7 linked regions of the Homo sapiens genome follow. The protein of the gene in region 4 purifies or fractionates together with the protein of the main gene of each other region. This does not show direct contact. Each region holds a gene or a part of one and is shown on either strand. Other genes may lie near its edges. The genes, in order: PDCD11, RBM28, NOC2L, IFI16, GRWD1, GLYR1 and DDX24.

Region 1 (3,647 bases), on a different chromosome or scaffold from region 4:
ATTTAAATTTTTGATAAAGTTTTTCTTACTAAAAGGACTAGCCTGGTGTCTGTGTGATTGAATGGGCATGCCACAGCAGGCTGGTGGTCATAGGGCCAGGCCCAAATCCTATGCCGTGTTAGGGAAGGGGACAGGACTAAAATGGCCCACAGGGGTGGCAGGGAGGGTGCAGTGAGTACCAGGGGTTCAACACAGGGGAAGGCTCTGGGGCTGATGATCTCTTTGCAGTTGGGTTCTATTATCTGATTTGGTGTGGGGAAGAGATGAAGCCTGGCCTTTCTCAGAAGGAAACAGTCTGAAATTTCACGAGTCAGAAGATTCTGCGCTCAGTGGGCAGGCCAGAACTAGCTCTCGTAACCTAGTGCTCATGTCCAAGAAGCAGGCCAGCCCCAGCTTCTCCTTCCTCCCATCCCTGCCCGCCACCCGCCCCACCTCTAGAACCTTTGGATGCTCTCCCTTGGCCCTGTCCGGCTTCCTGGCATATGACTCAGTCATTTCCCATGGAAAAGCTCTCAGGACACTTAAAGCTCTGCCAGAGAAAACGTTTAATTCCCTCATGACCAAGACAAAAAAGAACTGGCTTCAACAACTAGCTGGGTCTGTGCTGGCCTCCAAGACCTTGAATAGCCCAGATATGGAGAGGTTAGGTAATGTGGCCATAGTGGGCGTGGGATGAGACATCATCAGTTCACGCCAACACCCGTGGCTTTCCTCAGCAGCCCAGGTTTCTCCATTTCCCCCTCTGGGCTCTGAATTTGTCCTCCTGTCCCAGACTCATAGCCTCCCCTAAAGGGCAGAAGGTACCAGTGAGGCTGAGGCTGAAGGAACACCCAGAGACTCCAAGATCGGAGGGGAGGGCCCACTCCCTGGAGCCTACTGACCCCCTCCAGCTGGACTGACAGCCTGCCAGGGACAAAGCAGGACCCTGACCACAGGACCCTCGGGAATAGCCCCTCTACTCTTGCTCCCCAGGGAACTCCCCTGGAAGAGGGACCCTCAGCATTTCTGGGAGTCCAGGGGCCTGCTGCCCACAATCCCCAGGTAGCCTCAGATAAGGAAAAAGATAACAAGTTGGTACTGAAAATAAAGCAAGCGAAGAGGGATTTAAAAAATCTCAACTTCCTTTTCATCCTGACAGGATTTCCCCAAGCGTGCTGCAGAAAAAGCAGCATTTAAATAGAGTCCTGAGGTAACAGTTTTCCGAGTGCCCAGGCACTCGAGGCGGGGCCGGGCTGGCCCATTGTTGACAGTGTCCCACAGAGCCAGCCTGCCACTAGTCCTCTAGCACTGAGCTCTTGGCCTCCACATACTCCAGGGCCTTGGCCTTGACTGCCTGCACATCCTTCTCAGTGCCATGCTGCTTCTCGTAGTCCAGGTAGCGCTTGAAGAAGAACTTCATTCTCTTGGGGGCCAAGCTCAGATGAATGACCCGCTCAAAGATGTCCCTGTTGAGGAAAAGCAGAGTGGCATTTGCCTGTCAGTCCCAGGTCACGTGCTTCCTGCCTAGCACTCACCCACTTGCTCTCAGCCCTGGAACCAGGACCCTCTCCCATCCAGGACTCCCACTTCTACCATTATCTTTATTAATCCATGATGAACTCCCATGATGCCTTGGGGAGAGGCACTACCACCCTCATCTTCCAGATGAGCAGATGGACACCCAGAGATGGTAAGGGACTTCCCTGCCTAAAGCCACACAGTGATCAAGACAAAGCTACTGGGATGGGGGACACAACAGTGAGAAACATACATAGTGAAGGGCTTGGGTGAGGCACCTGTTCTTTTTGGACCTCAGTCTACTCATCTCTAAACCCTCCCTGTCTTGTGGAGACGCTGGGGTCAAAAGCAAGAGAATGCCTGTGAAAGTAGTCTACAATGAGAGTCAGGAACAGTGTTAATTATGAGAGAAACTCGAGTCTCTTGACAAGGCTACCTCCTACCAATGGTTTCAGACACAGACCAGATGCTGGCCTTTGAGGCAGAAAGAGGAGTTGAAGTGAATGTCACTGGGCCTGGGGCATCACATCTAGCTGGTTTTCTAGATCAAGTAAGAGAACTGGGATGCTGAGAGCTGCTGTGGGACCAGTGCCTACCACGCCCTCTCCTGAGGAACTCGGCCTTGGCCAGCTGCCCCACTCACCGGACGTCCTTCTGGCTGCCGTGCTTGATGGTCATGTCGATATAGACCGACCAGACATCTGTGCGCTTTGGGTAGGTGCTCAGCGTGTTCTCAAAAATGGCTTTGGCCCGCTCTGCATCCCCCAGCTGAAACTCAAGCTGGGCAAACTTGGCAATGACATCCACATCTGCAGGGAGAGGACTGCTCAGAGACCCAACAAGCAGACAGCCCCCTCACCACAACACAGTGTTCCGCAGGGTCAGCGTGCACCTGACTCCCTGCTCTTGGGTCCCAAGACTCAGGTTGTGACAAGAGGGACAAAGACCCAAAAGGGGTGGGTTTGGGGCCAAATACACAGATGGGCACTGCAGACACACCACTCTCTGGGCACAGAAGAGGTGGGGGATCCCAGGGGCAACAGAACTAGTACTAACTGCGTTTTGTTCCTCCATCTTTTGGAGCCTGACATTTGAAATTTAACATGCACTGTTATGCTGAGGGGCAGAGAATCAACAGGCAGCAAGAGGAAAGCCCTCACAAGGCTCTCCTGACTTAGAAGAAGCAATGCCACAGCCAGTTCCTACTCCCCGATCCTGGAGTGCTCATGGGCTCAGGAGCTGGGAATGAGCACTCACGCTCCTTGCTAGGCAGGCACTCCAGGGCTCGCTGCAGCACGCGGTGACTGGCTGCAGCCTGGCTCCTCCGCAGAAGGAAGGCGCCGTATTTGATCCACACAGCTTTCTCCTGCCGGAAACGCTTCAGCATCCGGTTGTAGAGTTCACCAGCTTCCTGTGGGAAAAGACGAGGCACGCTGAGGAGAGTGTGATACTACAGAGGGGACAAGACAGACAAGCAGCAACACTCACAAGAAGCTAGACCTGGGCTCCCAGACACCAAATCACTCTCAGGGCCTAATGCTAGAGACCTGAGAGGAGCGGGAGGGAGGCTCACAGAAGGGCACCGTGAACAGGCACAACACGACGGAGGGGATTCCCTGCTGATCCGCACCCATGGGAGGGCGGTCCTAGCCTAGAACATGAGAATGACAAGGGGGAGTAGGAGAGACGCCAGAGCGGATGCTGGGCCGGGACGTCCCCTTCTGTCTGTGATGCCCTGCCAGCAGCCCAAGGCAGACACACCAGGGGTCCACTGCCCCTTCACTTCCAAAGCCACTCCTTCCCTCACCTTGACCCCACAGGCCTGAAGAAGAGGTGAGGGAAATGACTTCTTTTACTTGGAAGATAGGGAAGTTGGGGCCCCGATGTTGGGTGGCAAGCTCACAGCAGGACTGGACCCAGCACCCCAGGGGCTCTTCTCTGAGATTGTGGCCCTGGAACTCCCAGGAGTTCGTCTGTGGCCCAACCTCCTACCTGGAATTTCTCTGACTTGGCGTAGATGTCAGCCAGGTGGAGAAAGACTTTGAGAGGCTCGTTGTACTGCACGGCTCGCTCAAAGACCTTGGTCAGGGACTCCTGAGAGCCGTACATGTTCTCCAGGTTCAGCAGAGCCACCCACACGTTCAGCTTCT
Region 2 (4,562 bases), on a different chromosome or scaffold from region 4:
AGAGCTAACTTCTTAAGTACATAAAGATAAGCCTGGCGCAGTGGCTCATGCCACTTTGAAAAGCCCAGGCGGGCTGATCACCTGAGGTCAGGAGTTCGAGACCAGCCTGGCCAACATGGCAAAACCCTGTCTCTACTAAAAATACAAAAATTAGCCAGGCGTGGTAGCAGGCACCTATAGTCCCAGCTACTCAGGAGGCTGAGGCAGGAGAATCCCTTGAACCTGGGAGGTGGAGGTTGCAGTGAGCCAAGATTGAGCCATTGCACTCCAGCCACGGTGACAAGAGCGAAACAAAGTCTCAAAAAAAATAAATAAATAAAAATAAAAATAGACAAAGGACATGCTAAGTATATGAAAAGATGTTCAAACTCACTCTTAATTAAAGAAAACATAGCACAAGAAATGAGATACTATTTTTCACCAACAGATTGCAAAATCAAAAAGACTGATGGAATCCAATGTGGTAAGGTTATGGGAAAAAGACATTTCCATATACTACTATGACAGTGTAAACTTTCTGGAAATACTGTATAGGACATAGGAAACTTTGAGGAAAAAACATACACATACAATCACACACAAATTATAAAATACACTACATTTTGAATGTGTATATGTGTGTGTATATGTGTGCATTTTGCTTATAAATGTATTAAAATATCTATAGATACACAAGAAACAAATAACCTTGGTTGTCTCTGGGGAAGTTCCCTAAGAAGCTGAGGATCTGGGTATAAGGGAGACTCACTGTTTGTTTTCAAGAACAGACATATAAGCTTATACATACAAAGAAAATATCTGGAAGGATGCACAAGAAACAACAGTGATTACTTCAGGGAATTGTTAGGATTGGTGAGAAACTTCTACTTTGTGTATTACACTCTTCTGTGTTGTGTTTTAACTTTTTATCATTATCATTTATCTGTCCTATAAGTTTTTTAGGTGAAAGAATGGCATGAGACAGCTGACTGTGGGTTGTAGAATACAGGATCTCAGAGTCCCTTCAGTGTAGAAGCTTCTTTGATTCTAAGGTGTATACCATTCTCTCCTCACAGAAAAAGCTTATTTCCTCAGATTTCTTATATGGTCAAACCAACATGTCAGACTTACTGAAATGGAATCAGAATAAAAACAGCTGAAATAAAAATCTCCACCCAGACAAATCAAAGAACCAGTTATTAGCCATTTCTCATTCTGTAATGACCTGCCTTCCTCAATAAACAAGTTGAATTTATTCTCAATAAAGGTAGCAATAAGGATTGGCTAAAGTTTTACAACATGTTCAAAGAGGTCCTTGTTATGGAACGCACTGTGTTCCCCCAAAATTCATACATTGAAGCCCTAACCCCAAATATAATTGTATTTGGAGACAGAGACTTTAGGGAGGTAACTGAGGCTAGCTAAATGAGGTCTTAAGGTTGGGCCCTAATCTGATAGGATTGCTGTGCTTATAAGAAAAGAGAGACCAGAGTTCACTGTTACTTGTTCTCTCTCTCCCCTCGTCAAGCCACAAAGAAAAGGCCATGCAAGCACATAGCGAGAAGGCAGCAGTCTGCAAGCTAGGAAGAGAGCTGCACCCAAAATGAATCAGCTGGCACCTGGGACTTCTAGCCTCTAGAGCTGTGAGAAAATAAGTTTCTGCTGTTTAAGCCACCCAGTTTATGGTATTTTGTTATGTCAGTCCAAACTGACTAAACAGTTCTTTATCCCCATCTCAACTCCAAGGAGTTGTTTAAAATCTAGCTTGATGTTGAGATGGTTATATCATCTGTTTCATCTATATTATCTGTATAAGATGCTGTTTACCTGGTTATTCTATCAAGTTGGACAATCCAGAGAGAGGTAGAACCTCAGCATTAAGCTAGGTTTTCAATTCCCTAAGAATCTTAACCCTCAAACACCACTCCAAAACTCACTTAAAAAACAAAACAAACAAAAAGGAAACAACAAAAAAACCTTTGGAAGAAAGGAGTATAAAGGTTTCCTTTTCAGCATTTAAACATAAATTTGATAGAACACCTTAGAGTCCTATTTAAAAAGAGATCTAAGCAGAACTGATGCTCATTTCCGTAACTTCAGTAACTTTTTTAAAGTCTAAAGACATTTATGAAAATCCAAACAAACCTTTATCCTCTTGCTCCTCAGTGCTGGTATCACTCTGAGCCAGTTCCTCTCCATCATCAATACTATCGCTTTCCTCTAGGTCACTGTCCTCCTCAGAATGATCACTGCTTTTTGCAGGGGCTGGTCTCTTGACTGCTCTGCAATGGCACAGATCAGAACTAAGGAGGTGGGCTGACAGAGGGCCTATTCAATTTCATTACACATGTCAATTCTGCAATGATGCAGGCAGAAAAAGGAGAATTTTTCCTCTCGGAGACAATCTTGAATCTTCCTCTGCTGTCTCAGAACAGGATGAGCTGCTTACCTCTTCTGAATTTGCACAGGCTTGGTCACCTTTGATTCTATATTCTCTTCCTCTTCATCTTCATCATCAAAAACCCCATCTTCTTCATCATCATCATCGTCATCATCATCGTTTTCTTCCTCTTCCATATCCTCTTCCTCTCTGCCCTTCTTTTTAACTGATTCCTGATGTTTAGATTCATGGCTCTTTTCCTCACCTATGGAGGGAGGTAAAGAAAGGAGGAATTCATTTAATATCCAAAACAATGTTATTTTAACAAAAGTAACCAATACTCCAAGTTCTTGGTTTCATCGGTTTTACAGAATTTCGTATATTTTTCTTACTGCATATAACAGGAGAAAGTATAAAGAAAAGAAAAAGCAAAAACAGAAATAAACAAAACTCTCAACACCCAGATTCCTTTAGAGTTTGTCCCATTCATCAGTCTGAAGGTTCATCTGGCCCAGACTGAAAGAAGTGGCAACTGAGCCTCTCCAAGCAGTCTACCATTCGTACATCATAGCCAGCAAAATGCTCACTAGGGGGCAAAGCCAAGCCATGAACTTTAATCTCAGTGCGTTCTATTCTCTGAGACCCTGGTGGCTTACCAGCCAATTGTTTTCTAAATAAACCTCAAGTTTTAAGTTTCTCTATTCTTAATGTTCCATCACTCCTATTATGCACAGCCTGGAAACAACAGCAAGTAAAGGGGACAGTGAACTCAGGCTCACTCACAGCCACTCCCAGGAAGGGGCTTAGACTCAAAAGAGCCTAGGTTTTGGGACCAGAGCACCAAATGGTACAATATGAATTGACAAACAGACCTGGACTCACTTCTGAGCCAGCAGGAATTCAGAGTTTTCCCTGAAAGCCCAGTCTCATTCTTTTGGTTAATCTTCCACAATAGTCTTACTCTGATAAGCAGGTTCTCTTACACTTTTTTTTTGAGACGAAGTCTCGTTTTGTTGCCCAGGCTGGAGTGCAGTGGGGTGATCTCGGCTCACTGCAACCTCTGCCTCCCAGGTTCAAGAACCTGCCTCAGCCTCCCAAGCAGGTGGGATGACAGGCGCCCACCACCAAGCCCAGCTAATTTTTGTATTTTTAGTAGAGATGGGGTTTTGCATGTTGGCCAGGCTGGTCTCAAACTCCTGACTGCAAGCAATCCACCCAAAGTGCTGGAATTACAGGCAAGAGCCACTGCACCCAGCCTTTTTCTTACACTTTTATCATGAACACAGGAGTTGTTTCAATACTCTCACCCAGGTTATACAACGCCCCTACTCACCCAACACTACCACATCTTACCTATAGCAGAAACAGACTGTGTATCTTTATATTTATCCTTTGCCACGGCCCAATCCACAGCCACTGTCCGGCCTGTCAAGCAGAAAAGTGGCATCAGAAAGGCTCTCCTTTTAAAAACCCTACCTCTGTAAATGACCCCTAGTCATCACAGACAATAATGGAACCAGTGGAGACAAAGAAACTGCCAATTCAGGGAATGCTGGTCTTAAAATAAAGCTCCTAGTCACTGCCTACTCCTTTTAACCCTTAACCTTTTTATCAATGAACAGAAATTTTGCCTTTCTACATAGCCACCACACCTGGGATAAGATGGAGTAAAAAAATAAAGAATTAGAACTATGTTTCCAGTTAGACTATCAGGAATCAAAACAGGCATTCTGGAATCATCTGCACCCTACCTGGAAGCTAGGACATCTCTACGGCAATAACTTCTTTTTTTTTTTTTTGAGACACAGTCTCGCTCTGTCGCCCAGGCTGGAGTGCAGTGGTGCCATCTCAGTTCACTGCAACCTCCGCCTCCAGGTTCAAGCGATTCTCCTGCCTCAGCCTCTTGAGTAGCTGGGATTACAAGCATGCACCACCACACCTGGCTAATTTTTGTATTTTCAGTAGAGACGGGGTTTCGCCATGTTGACCAGGCTGGTCTTGAACTCCTGACCTCAGGTGATCCACCTGCCTCCTCGGCCTCCCAAAGTGCTAGGATTACAGGTGTGAGCCACCGCACCTGGCCGGCAATAACTTCTTTAGGCACAGTACTTGATAAGTCAATATATAAATCACAGTCAGTTTAATAAATAGCCCACAGATGCTGAACAGTGATATAACCAAGGAGGAATCTAGATACCAACCT
Region 3 (3,839 bases), about 160 Mb from region 4:
TGTCACAGCTGTCCTTGGGGCTGGGTCCCCAGGTTGCTGGGTCCAGAAGGTATGGAAGCCCCAGGCACGTTCTGATTCCCCTTCCACTGAGGCAGGGATGCTGAACATCTTTAGGAAGCCATGTTCACTCCCATGGCAGCCAGCAGTGGTCTCTGATTGCCCAGCCCTTGGCCTGGCCCCTGTGTCTGTGGGCCTCCAGCTCTGCTGCCCAGCTCCAGGCATGCTTTGTGTCTGTTTCCCTTGTCCAATCTCCTTGGCTACGTGCTTTCTTACTCTCTTGCAGTGTCTGTTTCTTCACTTGTGCACTGCCCTGGTTCACTGCAGCCGCACCCTGTAGGCCCCTCTCACGCAGGGATGCAGGCCTCTCCTCTCCGGAAAAAGCAAACCCTAAAAGCTAAAACAAAGCCCTCAGCTGTAGGCCGTGCCTGCCCTTCCCCGGTGCCTGGACAGGAAGCCAGTCGCCTGCCCATACTTTTGGCCCAGGCTAGAGAAGGGCAGTGTCCTCCCAGAGGTTCATCAGTACCAGGGCGTTTTCCCATCTGGACCTGAGCTCAGCTGTCTGGCAGCCACCCCTGCTGAGTGGGGTGTCTTGCTGGGGCCTCCACCCTTGGGCCCCCCATAATCTGCTTCTGTCCTCTGGTGCCCCAGCATGTACCCTGGATCTCTCTGGTTCACAGCCTGAGGGCTCCTAGTGGTTGGGGAGGGGTCACAAGACTGAGAGGCCAGGCTGACTCTTTCTCTGCTCCTCCTGGCATGTCCTACGGAGGTGCATGGCCTGTGGCTTCTGTGGAGGGTGTGGGAGGGGCCCCCCAGGCCTCCCGTGACCTCCATCTGTCCCGTCCTGTGTCTGGCACTCTTTGCTGTTGCTGCTGCGTCTTCTGGTTGCTCGGGACGGAGCCCCATGTGGCATTGCTGTGCTGAGGGCCAGGATGGGCCTCAGTGCCATGTTGTCAGGAATGGGGGCTGTCCTGGTACTCTGTGTGGCAGGGACCTCTAGGTCTCCAGACGTGGGTCCTTAGTGCTTCCCAGGATTTTGGGAGAGGGCCCGTGTTCCTGATCCTTCCCTGCTGATCAGAGCCCCACTCGGGGACACGCCAGGCTGTGTGGGGCCATGGGGCTGGGACCGTGCCTAGCTGCTTATCTCTTGTTTCGGGTTGGGTCTCCTCGTGCTGAAGCCTGAGGACCAGGGTGACCAGGGTGCAGCCAGGTGCAGGGCCAAAGGGACCAGGGGGACCAGGGTGCAGCCAGGGTGAAGCCAGGGTGACCAGGCATGGGGCCGAGAGAGCCTGACACGGCCCTTGGGGCAGATGTTCCAGCAGGTCGACTTCAACAGGAAGCCAGGGCGCATGAGCTCCAAGCCCATCAACTTCTCCGTGATCCTGAAGCTGTCCAATGTCAACCTGCAGGAGAAGGCGTACCGGGTGAGGCTGGCCTCCTGGGGAGGGGCCTGGGCAGTTCCCAGGGTGGGGTTGGGGGTGCTGAGGTGGATGGGAGGGGGCTGGCATCCTCCAAGTTCAAGCATGGACCTTCATGGTCTCCCAGGGCTGGGGCCCAGGAGCCCCTTCCTTGCAGTCCGTGCCCTGGAGATGGCGCTGCCCTGACAGCCTGAGGGGAAGGGGCCTGAGTGCCCAGCCCCAGCCTCTCCCTGATGCACTCGGCCCTCTCTCCTGCTCTTCAGGACGGCCTGGTGGAGCAGCTGTACGACCTCACCCTGGAGTACCTGCACAGCCAGGCACACTGCATCGGCTTCCCGGAGCTGGTGCTGCCTGTGGTCCTGCAGGTGTGTGTCCTGCCCACACCGGCTCGTGGCCGACTCAGACTGTCTTATAACGGGCTTGGCTGCCCCAGGCTGGTAGGAGGTGCCCTTGTCCCGGGTACCTGGGACTGGGGTGGAACCTGACTGCTGGCAACGCGCCCCGTGAGGCCCCCTTGGAGGGGCTGATGAGGGGTTCTAAGCCATTCAGGAGGTTTGGGGGCAGGCCTGGGCAGTGGGCTGAGGACCCTGGGAGCACAACAGCCTCCTCCCCAGGTGGGAACCACAAGGCTGATCTTTGCTTCGGGGTTGGGACTGAGCATGCCGACCCTGGCTCAGGCTGGTACGCTGATCGCACACTTCCCCAGGCCATCCCGGGTGTGGGGAGTGGGTGGAGTGGCTTCTCAGGTGGCAGGAAGGCCTGGCCTGCCCCGCCAAATACCCCACATCAGCCTCATAGGAAGGCCCAGCCTGCCCCGCTAAATACCCCACGTCAGCCTCATCTTAGGCAGGAGTGGGGTGGAGGAGGGGGTTCTCCTTATCCTCAGAAGGTCCTTCTGGGCCCCCACGGGAGGTCTGTTTGCTCTCAGCCGTGATGTTTCCAGCCTCAGGGAGGCCTGTGCCTAGTGGAAGGGGTGGGGGCCCTGCTGTCTGGCCCTGGTGGCTGGAATCAGATGTGCCGACTATAGGTCTGTGCAGTGTGGGGAGGAGGGATCTGCTCACATGAGCCACAATTGGTCAGAGGCTTATCCAGATAGAGGTGTGTGCATGTGTGTGTACTCACACACGGCCACACATGTCACATGCACAGAGCCGGGACCCCCTTTCTGGGGGGCACTCACAGCAGGGGCCACAGCCTCTGTTCCTCCCATGTCCTCTTGGGTGGTGATACCTGGCATTGGGGCATCTCTGCTTCTGGACTCAAGGGCCCAGGGTCGGGGTCTGGGGTAGGGGTCAGAAAATGTTTTTGGTGAGGGGCCAAATGGTAAACGTGGCTTCCTACGGATGTTCAGCTGCACAGGCAACTGCAGAACCATGCAATGCACACGTGTGGCTGCACGTCAGCGAGACTGTATTTTATTAGTAGTAGTAGTATTGTTTGAGATGGAGTCTCGCTGTGTTGCCCAGGCTGGAGTGCAATGGTGCGATCTCGGCTCACTGCAATCTCCATCTCCTGGGCTCAAGCGATTCTCCAGCCTCAGCCTCCCAAGGAGCTGGGTTTACAGGCGCCCACCACCACACCCAGCTAATTTTGGTATTTTAGTAGAGACGGGGTTTTGCCACGTTGGCCAGGCTGGTCTTGAACTCCTGACCTCAGGTGATCCACCCGCCTCAGCCTCCCAAAGTGCTGGGATTACAGGCGAGAGCCACCACGCCTGGCATAAAACTTTATTTCCAGAGGTGAGTAGTGGGCAGGGTTGGCCCAGAGGGTGGGCTGATTCTGCCTCTGCCATCCCAGCTGCAACAGCTATGCACTTGAGCCCTGAGATGGGATCCATGTCCCCTCCTGGGGTATCCCCGTGGCCACCACGCGTGGTTTTGCACAGGACCTGGGCCAGCTGTGCACATGGAGCGGTCCTGGGCTTCAGTGGCTGACCCCTCCCTTCCGCAGCTGAAGTCGTTCCTCCGGGAGTGCAAGGTGGCCAACTACTGCCGGCAGGTGCAGCAGCTGCTTGGGAAGGTTCAGGAGAACTCGGCATACATCTGCAGCCGCCGCCAGAGGGTTTCCTTCGGCGTCTCTGAGCAGCAGGCAGTGGTTAGTGGGCCCTGGGGGTAGTGCCACCTGAGGGCACCTGCCAGGGTATAGCCCCAGCTACATGTGGGGGTTTGCCCAGGGTGAGGCATGACCCTGAACTCCCCCAACCCCCCAGGAAGCCTGGGAGAAGCTGACCCGGGAAGAGGGGACACCCCTGACCTTGTACTACAGCCACTGGCGCAAGCTGCGTGACCGGGAGATCCAGCTGGAGATCAGTGGCAAAGAGCGGGTGCGGCTCGGCGAGGGGACCTGGGGGTGTGTTGTGACTTCCTGGGTTTCAGATCTAGCGCACTATGACTTGAGACCAGGGCGAGGGTTTGGAAACAGTGC
Region 4 (4,562 bases):
AAAAATAGAGTACAGAGTGCTTTTCCTGATATGTTCCTGTCCAAATTCATAACCAGTTAGCATGAGACATTCCACCCCGCAAAAAAGCATCTATCCTCTGCTATTGATTCAAGCAATTTATCTGATCAATACTTCATTACCCATTATATTTGTTTCCTAGAACAACTCATTAACCTGCGTTACTTTCTGTACACAGTCTTTTTTTTTTTTTTGAGACGGAGTCTCTGTCGCCCAGGTTGGAGCGCAGTGGCGCGATCTCGGCTCACTGCAACCTTCGCCTCCTGGGTTCAGGCGATTCTCCTGCCTCAGCTTCCCAAGTAGCTGGGACTACAGGCGTGTGCCATCACGCCTGGCTAAATTTTTTGTATTTTTAGTAGAGACGGGGTTTCACTATGTTAGCCAGGATGGTCTTGGTCTCCTGACCTCGTGATCTGCCCACCTCGGCCTCCCAAAGTGCTGGGATTACAGGCATGAGCCATTGCGCATGGCCTATATACACACTCTTAAAGAGATGATTCTTACAAATCCAGTTCTAGGATGATGAGTAATGAGCAAAAAGCTGGAATGTTTGAGCTCAAGGACTTGGTTTCAGGAGGGGGTACAAATATTGGAAGAGACTCAGTAAATGCAGAAAGTAGAAAAAGTAATTAGAGAGTTACCAGAAGCTTGCTTTTTCTTACAGATTCCTCATAAGTCACTGAATAAATAGTTGTAGCAGATATCCATTCTTTTTGCATGGGGCCAGAGACCCAGAAAGGCTATCAGAGATTTCAGCTTCCTCTGTATCAAGGTGCTTTGGGAAGCAAAGCTGCCCTGTAGGTGAAAGCAGTAGAAATTTGGAAGAAAACTCATTGTTCTAGAACTGTCATAGAAATATCTCAGATATGAAAGACTTAAACAAAAAGGATATTGAGGGACGGCTTTCTGCAAAGATGTGGCCTAAGATATGTGCATATCTGTACTAGGAGTTGCTGTTGTGCATCTTGTTTAACTCTCTTAGAAGGGACTTCAGCCTATATGTGGTTGTTATTAATTACATTCTCAGGAACAGAATATTAATTTTCTGTTACAGAAAACAGTAAATCAGAAGACCACAATCTACGAAATTCAGGATGATAGAGGAAAAATGGATGTAGTGGGGACAGGACAATGTCACAATATCCCCTGTGAAGAAGGAGATAAGCTCCAACTTTTCTGCTTTCGACTTAGAAAAAAGAACCAGATGTCAAAACTGATTTCAGAAATGCATAGTTTTATCCAGGTAAGAATTAAATAGGCAAATATTAGTTTTCCAAAGTGGAAATGATTTGCTTTAAGTTTTGGCAAAAACAAGTTTGTAGGTTTTTTTTACAGAGTTCAGCGGGAGGCATGAGAAAACAGATATTCTCCTTGTATTCACATTTACTTTTTTTAATTTTTTTTTTCTGGATGGAATGATGTGATAGGATACAATTTTAAAAAGAAAGAAATCTGAACTTTATCAAAAAAATTGAACTCTGAATTTTATGTAAACTTTTAAGTGATTGTAGGGTTGGGATTTAAAATTACATGTTCTCCATTTGTGAATTAGAAAACGTCGTGTGTGTGTGTGTGTGTGTGTGTGATACTTTCTAGTTTGTAACATTACAATACACATATGTGTGTATTTAGTCCATAAAAATACCTAATTTGAAACTTAAAATTATTTGCAGTGATCAAAATTATGTCCCACTGACAAAGTTTTATACAGAGGAAGCTCTCCAATTTGTTAATTTGAATTCAAATATTCACGTGTTAAGTTTCCTTACAGTACATGATTTTACGCTGTTGCCATTTTGAATGTTGTAAATTATTTTTTATTTCAGTAGGTTTTTGGGAAACAGGTGGTGCTTCGTTATAGGAATAAGTTCTTTAGTGGTGATTTCTGACTTTTTGATGCACCCATCGTCCAAGCAGCGTACACTGTACCCAGTGTGTATGTAGCATTTTATCCCTCACCCCCCTCCCACTCTTTCCCCTGAGTCCCCAAAGTCCATTGTATCATTCTTATGCCTTTGTGTCCTCATAGCTTACCTCCCACTTATGAGTGAGAACATACAATGTTTGGTTTTCCTCTCCTGAGTTACTTCACTTAGAATAATGGTCTCCAATTCCATCCGGGTTGCTGTGAATGCCGTTATTTTGTTCCTTTTTATGGATGAGTAATAGTATTCCACGGTGTATACATACCCCATTTCTTTATCCATTTGTTTACTGATGGGCATCTGGGCTGGTTCCATATTTTTGCAGTTGTGAATTGTGCTGCTGTAAACATGCATGTGCAATGATCTTTTTTTGTATACTGACTTCTTTTCCTCTGGGTAGATACCCAGTAGTGGGATTGCTGGATCAAATGGTAGATCTGCTTTTTAGTTCTTTAAGGAATCTATACACTGTTTACTATAGTAGTTCTACTAGTTTACATTCCCACCAGCGGTGTAGAAGTGTTCCTTTTCACCACATCGATGCCAGCGTCTGTTTTTTAAAATTTTTTGATTATGGCCATTCTTGCACGAGTAATGTGGCATCATTTTGTGGTTTTGATTTGCATTTCCCTGATCATTAGTGATGTTGAGCGTTTTTCCTTATGCTTGTTGGCCATTTACATATCTTCTTTTGAGAATTGTCTATTCATGTCCTTAGCCCTTAGCCCTTTTTTTTTTTTTTTTTTTTTTTTTTTTTTTTTTTTTTTTTTGAGACAGAGTCTTGCTCTTTTGCCCAGGCGGGAGTGCAGTGGCGCTATCTCGGCTTACTGCAAGCTCCGCCTCCCGGGTTCACGCCATTCTCCTGCCTCAGCCTCCAGAGTAGCTGGGACTACAGGCGCCCGCCACCGCCCCCGGCTAAATTTTTTGTATTTTTAGTAGAGACGGGGTTTCACCGTGTTAGCCAGGTTGGTCTCGATTTCCTGACCTCGTGATCCGCCCGCCTCGGCCTCCCAAAGTGCTGGGATTACAGGCGTGAGCCACCGTGCCCGGCCCTTAGCCCACTTTTTGATGGGATTATTTGTATGTGCAATGCTTGTTCCCTGGTGCCATAAATAAATAGCATTTGAATATCAATTTAATTTTTTCAGCAAGGCCATTTTTATACTTTTTGTAGAAAGGGTACACTCGCCAGCAGTTTTGCCACAAGAGTATACGGAACAAAGGAGACAGGCTCATTTATAATCTGACGCGGCCACCCTCCTGCTGCGTTCGGTTTCCATTGGCTGGGACGGGACCTCACCTTCTGTATTTGTCCCGACTGGCTAGCACTTAGAACTTTTTAAAAGAGGCAAAGGCATAGGAGAACAAAGGAAGGAGGAAGTAACTTGTGGAATATTGAGAAAGGTAAAAACACCTTTAAATAAGGAAGAGGAACAGGCTATGACCTAATGCTTGCTTGGATCAGTATAAGCATGTTAGGGCAAATATTTAGGCTAAATTGTGGGAGCTAAGAACATAAAGTATATTGATTTTTTATTATGGCTAGCAGATATTTAAGAATGTTTGTACAGGTCTTTGAATAAATTTTGCTTTTAAGAGAAGTTACTATTTATTTCTAATTAGATGGGGAGGAAAGTTTTTGAAGAGGAACCTCTACTTTTTACAATTTCCCCTCATTTCATAATTCTTCTTTAAACTTGTTTAATATGTTTTGACTTAATTTTTTTTTGTCCTTTTAAGAGAAGTAATTTTTCAGAATAGGGTGGAGGAGAATTAGGAGTTAACTCTGCAAGAGTGGCAGAGATAAGTTTTTGTATAAAATTTCAAAGGCAGGGAATAATATAACAGCCTACAAGAATAAGTACACCAATAACAAGAGCAAACGAGGTGAGAATTGAAGTTAAATTTTTTTTTTATCCGCTGAACCAATGTTTTATTATTTTAGAAAAAGAGTTATTTATTTTAGAATTGTTGGCAAGTTTATCGGATAGGGCTGTTAATCCTTGTAGCACTTTTGTTATAGTTCTATCAGGGGCAGTATTAGGAATAAAGGTATAACATTGAGTTTTAATTATGACACAAACTTCTTTTTTTGCTAATATTATATTTAAAGCTATTTTATTTTTCTAGACCATCTGGCTGGTAGGTCCTAATTGCTTAGCTTTCTCTTTGATGGCGTCCTCAGTGTAATTTATGAATCGTTGCTGATTATAGTAGATATAGTTTATTTAGTCTACTTAAAAAAAATTTATAGTTACTTAACAGAGCAACATGGATTTAAACTCTGCAGCTATTTGATTTTGTGCTTTAAACTTATTTGGCACTTCTCATAGGACCTTAATAGCATTTATGTAAACCTAACGTTTAAAGGACTCATGAGGAGTTTCCTTTGGCCTGCAGTGTCTTGTTTTTACCTTTTTTTTTTTAGGTTGGTGAAATGCCAGGGTGCAGGGGATAGCCAGTTGGATTAGAGCATAAGTACTGCTCCAATTATTTGGCAGAGTGTCTAGTAAAAGTCCTCTACAATATCACCATACATTTGCTTGGGGATGGCTAAGCGTGGACTGATGGGCAAGCTCTTGGAAAGGCTTGAGCTCCTTGCATCCTTTTATGCTTCTA
Region 5 (4,562 bases), on a different chromosome or scaffold from region 4:
AGCTGGGGCTGTCTGTTTCCATGAAATTATTTTTACTATGTTTCAGTACTGTTCTAGATGCAGAGGATTTAGCAGCAAGCAAAAGGTCTCTGGCTCCATCAACTTACACACTAGTGGGGGAAGGGAACGAGATGAAACTAAGTAAATGTGTACCATGTCCAAAGGTGTTAACTATCCTGGAAAAAATCCAATGAAGTAGGGGAAGAGGGTTAGGGTGCTCCAGGAGTGGGGTGCTATTTTTAAACAGTGTGGTTAGGAAAGTATTCTGTCATAAAATGCCATTTGCATAGATACTCACAGGTAGTGGGGCAGTGAACCCTGTAAAAGAATTTGCAGGCAAGGAAAAACACAAGTTCAAAGGCCCTGGGGTGAGCTTGGCATGTTTGAAGAGTTTCAAGTGAAGCGGGAGTGTCCAGTCTGTCTGGAGCAGAATGAACAAAAGGGAGAATGACACAATTTGGGGAGCGGGCACAGAGAAGACATTGTTCAGAGCCTTGTCGGCCACTGTAAGGACTCCAGCTTTTAATTGGGAGACGTTGGAGGGTTTCAGGCAGAGGAAAGACAGGGTCTGACTTCTGTTTTAAAGTGGTCCCTCTGGCTGCTGTCCTTAAATATCAATTGCAGAGAGGTAAGGGTCGGAGGAAAGAATCCTGTGGGGAGACTTACGGTATTCAGGGGAAGGATGACATCAGTAGTAGTGTGACAGCAATAGACATCATGAGAAGGGGGTTGGAAGTGAGCTTTTTTTTTTAGATGAGACAGAGTCTCGCTTTTGTCGCCCAGGCCGGAGCGCAATGGTGCGATCTCGGCTCACTGCAACCTCTGACTCCTGGGTTCAAGCGATTCTCCTGCCTCAGCCTCCTAAGTAGCTGGGATTACAGCCACCCACCAGCACGCCCGACTAATTTTTGCATTTTTAGTAGAGGCGGGGTTTCATCATGTTGGCCAGGGTGGTCTCGCTCCTGACCTCAGGCAGTCTGCCCTCCTCGGCCTCCCAAAGTGCTGGGATTACAGGTGCGAGCCACCGCGCCTGGCCCTGGAAGTGAGCATTTTTACTGTAGTCAGCATAGGTGCTGGGCATGAGGACCAAGAATGAGTTCTGAATTTTGGGGCCTGAGGTGGAGAGAGAGCAGTTGCAGGTGGCAATTAGGAGCTTGGCTTTGGTTGTATCAAGTTTGAATGGTCAGGCTGGCACAGTGGCTGATGCCTGTAATCCCAGCACTTTGGAAAGCTGATGCAGAAGGATCGCTTGAGACCAGGAGTTCCAGACCAGCCTGGGCAATAAAGTGAGACCCTGTCTCTACAAAAAAATTTTAAAAGCCAGATGTGATGGTGCTTACCCATAGTCCCAACTACTTGGGAGGCTGAGGTGAGAGGATCACTTGAGCCCAGGAGGTTGAGGCTGCAGTGAGCCATTATGGCATCACTGCACTCCGTCCTGGGCAACAGAGCGGGACCCTGTCTCAAAAACAAAAAAGTTTGAACGGTCAATGCAGTAAGAGTCTGGAGCCCAGGGGAGAGGTCAGGGCTAGGGGTATTGGAAACCTCGTGGCTGGACTGGGTCTCCTAGTGAACAAACACAGAGGCAAGGAGATCCGAGGACTGAGTCTTGTGGCCTTCTAGCATTTAGAGGGTTACCGAGACCAGGAGCCTGAACACCCTCCCAAGGGCTGGTGGGAATTGCAGCCTCAACTCCCAGGCATCCTGGGGCTCTATCCTCCCACCTCAGCTCCCCCACCCACTCCCACCCCCTGTGGAGAGCTGTCCCAGTTACCATGCTGGTTTTTGCAGGTTGTGATTTTCTTCCCACAGAGGTTTCAAGGAGCTGTAGTCCCAGGCCTGGGAGATCTGAGGAAGCGCACTTCTGGTTCTCTGGGATATGGGGAGCGTGGGGTCAGTGCCTTGATCCTCCTCTCCCCTCGCTTCACATCACCCTTCCCCCACCGCTCTTCTGCAGGTGTCATGGCTGGGTGAAGAGCCTGTGGCTGGGGTGTGGTCAGAGAAGGGCCAGGTGGAGGTGTTTGCGCTGCGGCGGCTTCTGCAGGTGGTGGAGGAGCCCCAGGCCCTGGCAGCCTTCCTCCGGGATGAGCAGGCCCAAATGAAGCCCATCTTCTCCTTCGCTGGACACATGGGCGAGGGCTTTGCCCTTGACTGGTCCCCCCGGGTGACCGGTGAGTCCCTGGGGTGTTCAGGAGTCCCGGGAGGTCGGGGGAGCAGGGTCTGCAACAAGGGGCCGGGCGCTTAGACTCCAAGGAGGGGAGCGAGCTGCGGCCAGGTGGGGCGAGGTCATTTCCTGACTCCCTTCCCCAGGTCGCCTGCTGACCGGTGACTGTCAAAAGAACATCCACCTCTGGACACCTACGGACGGCGGCTCCTGGCACGTGGACCAGCGGCCATTCGTGGGCCACACACGCTCTGTGGAGGACCTGCAGTGGTCACCGACTGAGAACACGGTGAGGGAGGGTGGGGTTCTGGTCGTTTAGTTCTGATGGATTCTAGGCCAGGGACCTAGAATCCTAGGTCTGAGGGAAAAGAGGGCTGGGAGCCTGACGGAGGTTTAGTTTCCAGGCCAAGTCATAGTAAGGGGAACAGTGAAAGAGAGAGTAGCCCACCGCTGGCGCTTGGGCTTCACTGCGGGCTGGGGGGCATTGGGACCACTCAGACTCCGCCTCCCCCAGGTGTTTGCCTCCTGCTCAGCTGACGCCTCCATCCGCATCTGGGACATCCGGGCAGCCCCCAGCAAGGCCTGCATGCTCACCACAGCCACCGCCCATGATGGGGACGTCAATGTCATCAGCTGGAGCCGCCGGGAGCCCTTCCTGCTCAGTGGCGGGGATGATGGGGCCCTCAAGATCTGGGACCTTCGGCAGTTCAAGGTATTTTCCCAGCCGGACACCTGGGGGCTAGAGAAGCTTGCTCCCAGCAGCCCCTGGGATTTGTAGGATTTTTCCTCCTTGAATAGTTTTACACAACCAGAGCTGGAGAGCCCTTAGAACTAGACTCCTGCCTCTTCAGGGTACAGAGGAGGAAACTGAGGCTCAGCAAGAGGAAGGGTGGCGGGTCTCCACTCTTGGGGTCACTCACTCTACCAGGGGAACAGCTGACAAGAGATGGAAGGGGCTGGGGCAGCAGAGACTAGGACTCTCATCTGCCTGTGGGCAGAAGTACAGGTGTCTGTACGGCCAGTGCTGAGAGCTTCAGAGAGTTGTAGATTTCTAGATGCAACTGAGAATCGGGGCCCAGCCTGCTCGTTGTAGGAGAAGACTGAGGCACAGAAAGGACAGGAGCCGCTGTGACATGACAGCCAAGCTAGAGGTTGACATTGTGGAGCTGGGAGGGTCCCTGTGCAGGAGAAGTTGCAGCGTCCGGCATCCCTCTGGACAAAGCCGCAGCTTTGTGTGGCTCTGCCTTCCCGGGCTGCCATGATGTCATCCTTTTTCTCCTCCAGTTTGATCGTTTCTATAGCGTCAGCCCTGGGGAGGAGGCTGGAGACGGATTCCAGCCTCCCAGGCCCACCAGGTCACACAGGGCCCAGCTTGTTGACCATTGGAACTTCAGAGCAGCCTCTCCTAATGAGAGAGACGCCAATTGAGCGGGGCCTTTGCTGTAGTGAAAGTGCTGTCATTCTTAGTCTTTCTTTGGGTCGGCTTCCGGGGATTGTGTTTCTGCCTCCTTTGAGGCCTTTGTAGAATCTGCTGGGAGAGCTCTGGGAGAGCCATGCCCTCCTTTTTTTCTTTTTTTTTTTTTTTTTCTTTTTTTTTGCGATGGAGTTTTGCTCTTGTTTCCCAGGCTGGAGTGCAGTGGCGCAATCTCGGCTCACTGCAACCTCCCGCTCCTGGGTTCAAGCGATTCTCCTGCCTCAGCCTCCTGAGTAACTGGGATTACAGGCATGTGACACCAGCCCGGCTAATTTTGTATTTTTAGTAGAGATGGGGTTTCACCATGTTGTTCAGGCTGGTCTCCAACTCCTGACCTCGGGTGATCCACCCGCCTTGGCCTCCCAAGGTGCTGAGATTACAGTCGTGAGCCACCGCACCCAGCCCATGCCCTCCTTTTACAAGGAAGAAAACAGGCAGGCAGAGGGAAGAGCAGGGGCGGGGGTTTTGCTACCTGAGCTGGGAGGGGCTTCTTTGCAGGTGAATCACAGTTCCCAGCAACCCCTGGGCTGGTCAGCCTTCTTAGCAGCCAGAATTACCCTGTGTCCCTTTCCTGGACTCTGGGCTTGTGAGGGCTTAAGGGGTGGGGCCCTGGCTGAACCCTGAGGCTGGAGAAGGGTTGGGGCTTCTGCCTGGGTCCTCCCCAGAGTCAGGCTGAGGCATTCAGAGCCCGTTCCTCCCATCCTCTCCCTCTAGTCTGGTTCCCCAGTGGCCACCTTCAAGCAGCACGTGGCCCCCGTGACCTCCGTCGAGTGGCACCCCCAGGACAGCGGGGTCTTTGCAGCCTCGGGTGCAGACCACCAGATCACACAGTGGGACCTGGCAGTGGAGCGGGACCCTGAGGCGGGCGACGTGGAGGCCGACCCCGGACTGGCCGACCTCCCGCAGCAGCTGCTGTTCGTGCAC
Region 6 (4,562 bases), on a different chromosome or scaffold from region 4:
TGAGTAGGGGGGACTACAGGCACACACCACCAACCCCAGCTAATTTTTAATTCATTTATATTAAATTTTTTTTTTTCTTTGAGACGGAGTCTCACTCTGTCGCCCAGGCTGGAGTGCAGTGGCGCAATCTCGGCTCACTGCAACCTCTGCCTCCTGGGTTCACGTGATTCTCCTGCCTCATCCTCCCGAGTAGTTGGAATTACAGGAGCGTGCCACCACACTCGGGTAATTTTTGTATTTTTAGTAGAGACGGGGTTTCTCCATGTTGGTCAGGCTGGTCTCGAACTCCCGACCTGAGGTGAACCACCTGCCTCGGCCTCCCAAAGTGCTGGGATTACAGGTGTGAGCCACTGCACCCAGCAAAAAAAATTTTAATAGAGATGGGGTTTCCCTATGTTGCCCAGGCTGGTCTAGAACTCCTGGGCTCAGGGGATCCTCCTGCACTGGCCTCCCAAAGTGCTAGGATTACAGGTGTGAGCTACCATGCCTGGCCAATTTTTTAGTTTTTGTAGAGCTAGTCTTCAACTCCTAAGCTCAAGCAATCTGCTCACCTCAGCCTCCGAAAATGCTGGGATTACAGGCATAAGCCACTGCACCTGGCCAACTTTGTCTTTTTTTTTTTTTTTTTTTTAAGGGAAAGGCTCTTACTATGCTTCTCAGCCTGGTCTTGAACTCCTGGGCTCATGTGATCTTCCTGCCTCAGCCTCCCAAAGTGCTATGATTGCAGGTATGAGACACCACAACTGGCCTTCCCAGCTTCTCTTGAGAAAAAACAGACAATTTGGCAGAAGCTGGCTAGAACCCTGTGGACAGAGCATGACCTCCCCAGACTCCCTGACCATGGCCAGCCCTGCTGCTCTGAGCACCAAGGCAGGTCAGCTGGGGTGCCTGGCACCCGTGCCACTGCTTCTTAGGTCCAGTCAGCTACAGTTGCTTCCATTACCTGCCTGGGCTCGCTGGTGTCTGAATTTTTGAGCCTTGATCCAAGGTCTAATGTTCCATCATGGCCTCGTCACCCAACTGTTGCTGCCAGCCATCTGGCTTCTGTTCTCTTTATCCTGCTGTTGACAATCCTACCGCGTTCCTGACACAGTCCCCTTCACTTTGAAATTCTTCTCTGTGGCCTTGTAAGACCGGCCCCAAATCTTGTCAGCAAGAAGGCGAGAGAGGCACTCTCACTGCTTTATCTCATCTTGCTAGCTCCTCCTGCTCCTTCCTGCCCCAAGCACGGCATTCTTGTGGCAATGCAGGCCTCCGCGCTTCCCTCTTCTCCCTCTCTTCCTGAAACAAACCCATTCCACTGCCCGGACTCAACTACCCTTTTACAAATTCACCTCCCAAATCTACATTTCTAGTCCTGAGGTCACACCAAGCTCCCAGGCTGTCTAGGCCTTGCCTCAAGTTCTTGACATTCCAAACAGAACTGGTACTCTTTCTCCACAAGCCACCTCTACATCCCCAGTCCTCTACTTTTAAGAAAGTGATGACCACTTTCCCAGGAATGAAGATGGAAATCCTCTTTTCCTTTTTCTCATTCATCCTCTATATAACCAATTATGGAATCTTAAGAACTCTTCCTCTGAAGTGCCTCTCACCTCTTTGCTTGCAACATTTGCAATTACCCCCTTATGAATGCACGCCTAGACTTACCTCCTAATTGGCTCTGAGACTTTCCCCTCTGCACTCGGTGACTACTGGTGCACACACGGGAGGCACACACTGCCACTGGCTCAGTCACCTTCCCGGGCCCCCACTGACTCCAAGACGCTTTAGTACCACGCTGCTTCAGTAGACCTTCAGGCCCTCCACGATCCAGGGACAAGCTTCCTTTTTCTCGGCTTTCCTCACTATCCTCTCCCTGTTCGAGAGTATCTCCACCAGCACCGAGCCTCACACGGGCTGTGCCCTCCATCTTTGGAATGCCTACCCTTCTTTCTTGCTAAGCCCCTCCCAGGGCCAGCCCTTGTGCACCGGCTCAAGTGGACTGCTCTCCTGCCTCGCGCTCCTACTTTACACCTGCATCCAGGCCGTGTCTCTCACCTGGTCTATGGGATTCTTTATTTTTTAATTTTTTAAATAAGATTCGGGGTCTCACTCCATCACCCAGGCTAGAATGCAGTGGTGCAATCGGCTCAATGCAACTTTGAGCTCCAAGGCTCAAGCCATCTTCCTGACTCAGCCTCCTGAGTTGCTGGGATAAAGCATGAGCCACCGCACCTGCCCTGCAGGATTCTTGAGCACAGAATTCTGCTCCCACTCCATGAGCAGAGTATAGATAAGCATACTACATAAGCATACTGTAGAGCTTAACTCTACCTTGTACTAAAAGGACATCACTAATCCCGGAAGCTGCAGAGAGAAAACAAACCTTCTCATCCTTTGGGGGCCGACCCCGCTTCCGGGGACTTTGCTCTTGGGCTCTTTTCAGAGGGGATTTGGAGCCTCTCTCTGAAGAGCCTGAAGACACCCTCTTCTTTCCTTCTCCCATGTTCTTCTTCACCTTCCCTTCAGACAGGCTAAGTTTGCGCTTCTCATCACCTGAGTTTGGCCTACTTCTCTCCTCACTGGAATTACGTCGATTCTTGTCATCAGAAGAATTGTGGGATGACGTCTGAAAGTTTAATAATAATAATGATAACTACCACCACAGCTGCTGCCGCCATCGCCACCATCATTTACAGGTGCCATGTGCTGCTACAGGCACTCTGTGTGGTCTCCTCACAATGACCCTAGAAATAGATTCTGCTGTCGTCCCAGACATTGGGAGAAGCAGATTTAAAAAATATATATATCAAAAGTCACTTTCCCTATGTCCCAAAACTAGAAGAAAGGATTTAAATCTAGGCAGTATATGTATTTCAGAGGCTATGCTCCTAATCTGTGTGCTATGAAAGGAAGAAATGGCCTGTGCTAGACTCAAATGCTGAGATATTTCTCCTGGGTCCAAGCAATTTTCCTAAAAGCAACAACCTACTCCAGAAAGGTTAGCTGCATGGAGTTTCAAACTGATAAGCAAAACGCTGACACCTTAGAACTGAAGTAGCTTTCTCCAGTAGCATTTCAGAAGAACAAAGGTTTGCGTTTGGGTGACATTTAATCTGTTAGTTGCTATGCAAAAATCACCAGTCTGGCATTGGTAGAAAGTGAACATTGTGTCTCTCACCTGGTCTTTCCCTTTGGCTCTCCTGAGGAACTCTTCGACAGCATCTACCGCTTGCTGGAATCGTTTACCCTTGTTAATTTTTATCATTTCCTCTTTATGAGCATGATATGGCTTCAGCTGTTCCACTTTGATCCAGGCACTAGCAGAAAACAAACACAAAAAGGGTGTGAACCATATAGCATATGCCCTAAAGTATCAACAACCTCACTATGGCACGGTGTAAATATCCATTTGGTTTAACTGGACTTTGCAATAGGCCTTGCCATTTCTTTCAAAACATGCTATCAACCATCTCAGAGTCTTATGTCTAAAGTATATTTTCTTGAAACAAGTCAAGCAGAACAACCATCACCACCACTGCAGCAACCACAAATCAAGTTCCTCCAGTGAAAGCACTGTGTTGCAGATTATTTATTTCCACAATCGTCTATCAGCCTCCAATGCCCAACCACATATACGCTGCCACTTGCTCAGGGCAGAAAGAAATCTGGAGACCCTTTCCCATTCTCACCAGGCAGCACAAATGGCCACACACAGATCCCTGGGAATCAGGGTACCTGGAAATGTGATAGATGATAGCAGCATTACTATGCAGGAAAATGCCTGCTGCCTGTCAACAATGGGAACCAGATTTATGATCTGTTGATCCACAGAGAGTCAGGGATGTTACAGAGCTGAAGAAATGCAACATCTTCTAAAATTTGTGGTTCCTATGGATATTCACAGCCACTGAGCCTATATTTGTTCATAAATGATGGTAACCATGGCTACTAAACCACACAAAACACGGAACACATGGTTTGGAATAAGGGCAGCAGTTACAAAAGGAGGCATTTAAAAACAAGATGGCATGCTGTTTTATGATGTCTCAAAAAAAAAAAAAAATAGAAACAAGATGCTTGAGATTAAAGGTAGAAGAACATACACCTCCGATATGTAATTTTTAATTTCAACCATCAATGTGTAACACATGAAAGTGAAAGTAGTCAGCTGTCAATTCTGGGGTTTCTGATCTGTCACACTAACCTGAACAAATCTGCTGCAGCTGGCTTTCTATGGCTTCCCTGAATGGCATGCAGCTTATAGAATCCAAGCACAAAATAATTTTATAGGCTTTACAAGGTATCAGTTAGTTTACATGTTTTAGCCTGTGATACAGGTTTCACAGCATAACCTTCAGAAAAAGTAGGTCAGGTTAAGGATACAGAAACCCAGCTATCTCACAAGCTTCAGGTTGTTTTCTTCATAGAAAGCTAGAGAATATTCACTAACAGCAAGTGTTAACCTTTGCACATAAAAATAATGTTACTAACCCTCCACCAGCTACCTGGACTTTGAGTGTGCTGCTGGTAGTTGTGATAATGGGGTCTGTGCAAAAACACAGACCTGGGATCATCGG
Region 7 (3,500 bases), on a different chromosome or scaffold from region 4:
CACACACACACGTACACACCCCACTACCACCACCACCATCAGGCCCTCAACTAATCTCCCTCATGCACTCTTGGCTTTCTAAAGGCCAGGGTCTGGATGATACCACACCATAGCATTCTGCGATGAGAAGAAGGCATTGCCCACACCATGTCACCTAAGGCTCATTTCAGAAAAGGCAGTGAGGGGGAAAAGAGAAGTGCCATCTATTACCTGAGCTGCCGAAGGTTCCTCAAATGATAATGCTTTTCTTTAATTAATTCCCACAGCCGGCCTGGAGTAGCAACCACAATCTCAGGACGACGGTTCAGCATCCTCTGCTGTTTCTGCGTGGACATTCCACCAACCAAAATAGCAGTTTTAATTCCTATGGGACAGAAAACATAAGGGACACTTATTCAATCTGGGTGATCATTTTCTTACATGGCTGACACAGGCACCCCAGATTAGCAGAGACAGACATCAGCACAGTGTAATGCCCTAGAGCATTGCTAAAAGAGCAGGCCTGGCCAGACTGTTGACGCCACTCCTAGAGGGCTTACCAAGTCTTCTGTGATCTGAGCTCTACTTCTTCAGCCTCATTTCTTTTCTACTCCCTCCCCTCCAACCACACCAAAGGGGCTGAATTTGAACCCAGGTATGCTTACCTCCAAAGCTCTGGGAAAACGGAGCACTGGGGCACCATAATGCTGGGAGGAATATGACCTGCAGCTGTGCTACACCTCTCCTAGGAAGCCCTTCCATTCCCTCAGTTAGAATTATTCTGAAAGGTCCACTAATGCCCTGTTGTTTTCGTCTCTGGTGCAGAAATTCTCATAGTATCATGTGGGTAAAGGGCTTAGCAATAGTAACAACTTGGTAATTAATTGCTGCTTTCATTATAAAATTAAGATTCCCAGAGTGAAGCCCTTCCCAGAGTGAATTCCCTGAGAGAATTAAATCCTAATAGCTTAGAGCAGGGATCAGCCAACTTTTTCTGAAAGGGTCACTAGTGAACATTACTGACCTCATAGGCCAGATGGTCTCTGTCACAACTATTAACTCTACTCAACTTCACCTTTGTAGTACAAAACCAACCACAGACAATATAAAACCAAATGGGTGTGGGTGTGTTCCGGCAAAACTTTATTTATAAAACCAGACAGTTTGCTAATCCCTGCCCTGAGCATCTACTGTATCCAATAAATTTCCTATGCATCCACAATGGCACCAACCATGTATTATCCTTGAGGGAACTGAAAAAATGTCACTATATCAATTTTCTGTAGGGCTTAATTGTCTGGCTTATAGATGAGAGTGGCTTACCCTAGAGGGCAGGAGCCACAGCTCATTCATCTTTACCAACGAGCATTTGGGATTTACCTAGAAAATATTTATTAAATGGAACTAAACCTCACCTGTAAACCTGGCCACAGCATCAATGTGCTGTTTGACCTGGACGGCCAGCTCTCGAGTGGGAGTCAGAACCAGTCCAAGCAGAGGACGCTTTGGATATGCCTTACAGGTGGCGCTTTTGTCATCCAACTCCTGTTTTAGATTTCCAGTCTGCTCTTTATCAAGATTTTCCTCCTCATTCTCATTCTGTTTGGGAACAGGTTTCTCCCTGATCAGGGAAGAAGGCCCTTCACCAGCATCATCGTCACCAAAGAGCAACGCCTGGTCTGAGACAGTGCCTCCAGTCTTGGCTCTGGCCTCGGCTGCAATATCACTGGGCAGTGCTTCACTCTCAATTACAGTATCGTCAGGCAATGCATCAGACTCAGCTTCAGCCTTGCCTGGTGATCTAGTCTCAGCTCCGGCCTCAGTTCTGGTCTCTCCAGGTGGTGCTTCGGTGTTACTTGGAGGAGGGGCAGCATTCCTCTTCTGCCACTGCAACACCGCATGAATCATTGGGATGGCAAAGGCAAGAGTTTTCCCACTTCCTTAAAAGTAAAAAAACAAAACAAAGTAAAAACAGTGTGAATCAACAGATGAACATACTTTAGTCTGGAATTCATTCTTTTGCATAGAATAAGGTAGCCAAGTGCCACCCTGACCGACCCAAAGCTCCTCCACTCTACACAGATTTCCCCAGAAGGAACCAGAAGGCACATGTAAATTAGAACCCGAGGAAAAGTATGGCAGGCTAGCACTGAGGTCTTAGGTCACCAGTAACGAATTACAAATGTCCAAGAAATGAAACAATAAAGAGAGAAAGGGCAAGTTTTGGGTGTATGTGTTGTTTCTGTGAGGAGCAGGAAACAGTAATCCATACAATACTTTCCCAAGACTTTTCTTTGGTGAGAAAGGAGTAAAAGAAAATTTTCTTAAGTTTTCAGAAAATGTAAATATAAAACTTTTGTCTATGCCTGAACATTTTCAAACTGGCCTTTGAATGTACACAGAGTCCAAATCATCTGGGTGGTCAAAACAAAACATCTCAGGCTGAGAATTTAAAGAAGTTCCAAAGTGATAATGCCCTAGGCAGAAGCCAATAAATGCTTTCTCAAGGGAGAAACCATTACCATACATCTCCAAAAATTTTCACAATTTTCAAAGGAAATAAGCAGCTCTCAGTAAAAAATAACCACACACACAAAAATAAGATACTATAAGGAAAAAAGAGAGCAAAAACAGACACATGAAACTTTTGATAAGAAGAACAGCAGACTTATCAGAAACAATGAAAAGCCAGAAGACAGTGTAGCAATATTTTTTATTTGAATGCCTAAAAATAAAACCCTGACAATCTATAACCCTACACCCACTCAAAACAAAATGTGAAATAAAGACTTTAGGCATATAAAAGCTGAAATAATTCACCAGCAGCAAATGTAAGCTATCAGAAATATTAGTCTTTCATGCAATAGCAAAGATAACATAAAATGAAAATCTGGATGTACCCAAAGAAATAAAGAGCAACCGAAACAGTAACTACGTAGGTAAATATTTAAAAACTTCTTTTTATGGCCAGGCATGGTGGCTCATGCCTGTAATCCCAACACTTGGGGAGGTCTAGGCGGGAGGATCAAGACCAGCCTGGGCAACATAGTGAGACTCCCATCTTTAAAAAAATTTGCCAGGCATGGTGGCACACTCCTGTAGTCTTCGAAACTTGGGAGGCTGAGGCAGGAGGATTGCTTGAGCATGGGAGTTTGAGGCTGCAGTGAGCCATGATCGTGCCACTGCACTCCAGCATGGGTGACAGAGGGAGATACTGTCTCTAAAAACAAACAAAAAAACAAAACCCCTTATTTTTCTTATTTAAACATCTTTAAAAATAATTGTTTAAAGCAAATATAATAAAAATGTATTCTAGAATCTCTAACACATATGAAGTATACAACAAAAAGCACAAAGGAGGGGAGAAATGGAAAATACTCTTGTAAGGTTCTTACATTGTATGCGAAGTAGTAAATTACTTGAGGGTAAACTATAATAAAAGATATATACTATAAACCCCAAAGCAATCACTAAAAAGACGTTAAGAATTATAGCTAATAAGACAACAAAAAAGATAAAAT

The links.
Region 1: the proteins of IFI16 (region 4) and PDCD11 purify together in Homo sapiens (affinity purification with mass spectrometry; 3 studies listed by BioGRID and IntAct, with this or other methods). This does not show direct contact.
Region 2: the proteins of IFI16 (region 4) and RBM28 purify together in Homo sapiens (affinity purification with mass spectrometry; 3 studies listed by BioGRID and IntAct, with this or other methods). This does not show direct contact.
Region 3: the proteins of IFI16 (region 4) and NOC2L purify together in Homo sapiens (affinity purification with mass spectrometry; 3 studies listed by BioGRID and IntAct, with this or other methods). This does not show direct contact.
Region 5: the proteins of IFI16 (region 4) and GRWD1 purify together in Homo sapiens (affinity purification with mass spectrometry, with the first as the bait; 3 studies listed by BioGRID). This does not show direct contact.
Region 6: the proteins of IFI16 (region 4) and GLYR1 purify together in Homo sapiens (affinity purification with mass spectrometry, with the first as the bait; 3 studies listed by BioGRID). This does not show direct contact.
Region 7: the proteins of IFI16 (region 4) and DDX24 purify together in Homo sapiens (affinity purification with mass spectrometry; 3 studies listed by BioGRID and IntAct, with this or other methods). This does not show direct contact.

What each region holds. Positions count from the first base shown.
Region 1 is NC_000010.11:103,443,176-103,446,822, reverse strand, and holds the end of PDCD11 (protein RRP5 homolog), read right to left. Parts: coding exon 3,490-3,647; intron 2,909-3,489; coding exon 2,755-2,908; intron 2,307-2,754; coding exon 2,141-2,306; intron 1,446-2,140; coding exon 1,274-1,445; 3' UTR 529-1,273; downstream 1-528. UniProt on the Homo sapiens protein: Essential for the generation of mature 18S rRNA, specifically necessary for cleavages at sites A0, 1 and 2 of the 47S precursor. Directly interacts with U3 snoRNA. Involved in the biogenesis of rRNA.
Region 2 is NC_000007.14:128,333,419-128,337,980, forward strand, and holds part of RBM28 (RNA-binding protein 28), read right to left. Parts: intron 3,785-4,562; coding exon 3,713-3,784; intron 2,625-3,712; coding exon 2,429-2,624; intron 2,262-2,428; coding exon 2,125-2,261; intron 1-2,124. UniProt on the Homo sapiens protein: Nucleolar component of the spliceosomal ribonucleoprotein complexes.
Region 3 is NC_000001.11:946,072-949,910, reverse strand, and holds part of NOC2L (nucleolar complex protein 2 homolog), read left to right. Parts: intron 1-1,307; coding exon 1,308-1,421; intron 1,422-1,678; coding exon 1,679-1,780; intron 1,781-3,365; coding exon 3,366-3,509; intron 3,510-3,624; coding exon 3,625-3,738; intron 3,739-3,839.
Region 4 is NC_000001.11:159,019,269-159,023,830, forward strand, and holds part of IFI16 (gamma-interferon-inducible protein 16), read left to right. Parts: intron 1-1,072; coding exon 1,073-1,261; intron 1,262-4,562.
Region 5 is NC_000019.10:48,448,356-48,452,917, forward strand, and holds part of GRWD1 (glutamate-rich WD repeat-containing protein 1), read left to right. Parts: intron 1-1,957; coding exon 1,958-2,171; intron 2,172-2,310; coding exon 2,311-2,453; intron 2,454-2,678; coding exon 2,679-2,876; intron 2,877-4,352; coding exon 4,353-4,562. UniProt on the Homo sapiens protein: Histone binding-protein that regulates chromatin dynamics and minichromosome maintenance (MCM) loading at replication origins, possibly by promoting chromatin openness.
Region 6 is NC_000016.10:4,829,611-4,834,172, forward strand, and holds part of GLYR1 (cytokine-like nuclear factor N-PAC), read right to left. Parts: intron 3,303-4,562; coding exon 3,164-3,302; intron 2,612-3,163; coding exon 2,369-2,611; intron 1-2,368. UniProt on the Homo sapiens protein: Cytokine-like nuclear factor with chromatin gene reader activity involved in chromatin modification and regulation of gene expression. Acts as a nucleosome-destabilizing factor that is recruited to genes during transcriptional activation.
Region 7 is NC_000014.9:94,060,703-94,064,202, forward strand, and holds part of DDX24 (ATP-dependent RNA helicase DDX24), read right to left. Parts: intron 1,920-3,500; coding exon 1,395-1,919; intron 365-1,394; coding exon 211-364; intron 1-210. UniProt on the Homo sapiens protein: ATP-dependent RNA helicase that plays a role in various aspects of RNA metabolism including pre-mRNA splicing and is thereby involved in different biological processes such as cell cycle regulation or innate immunity.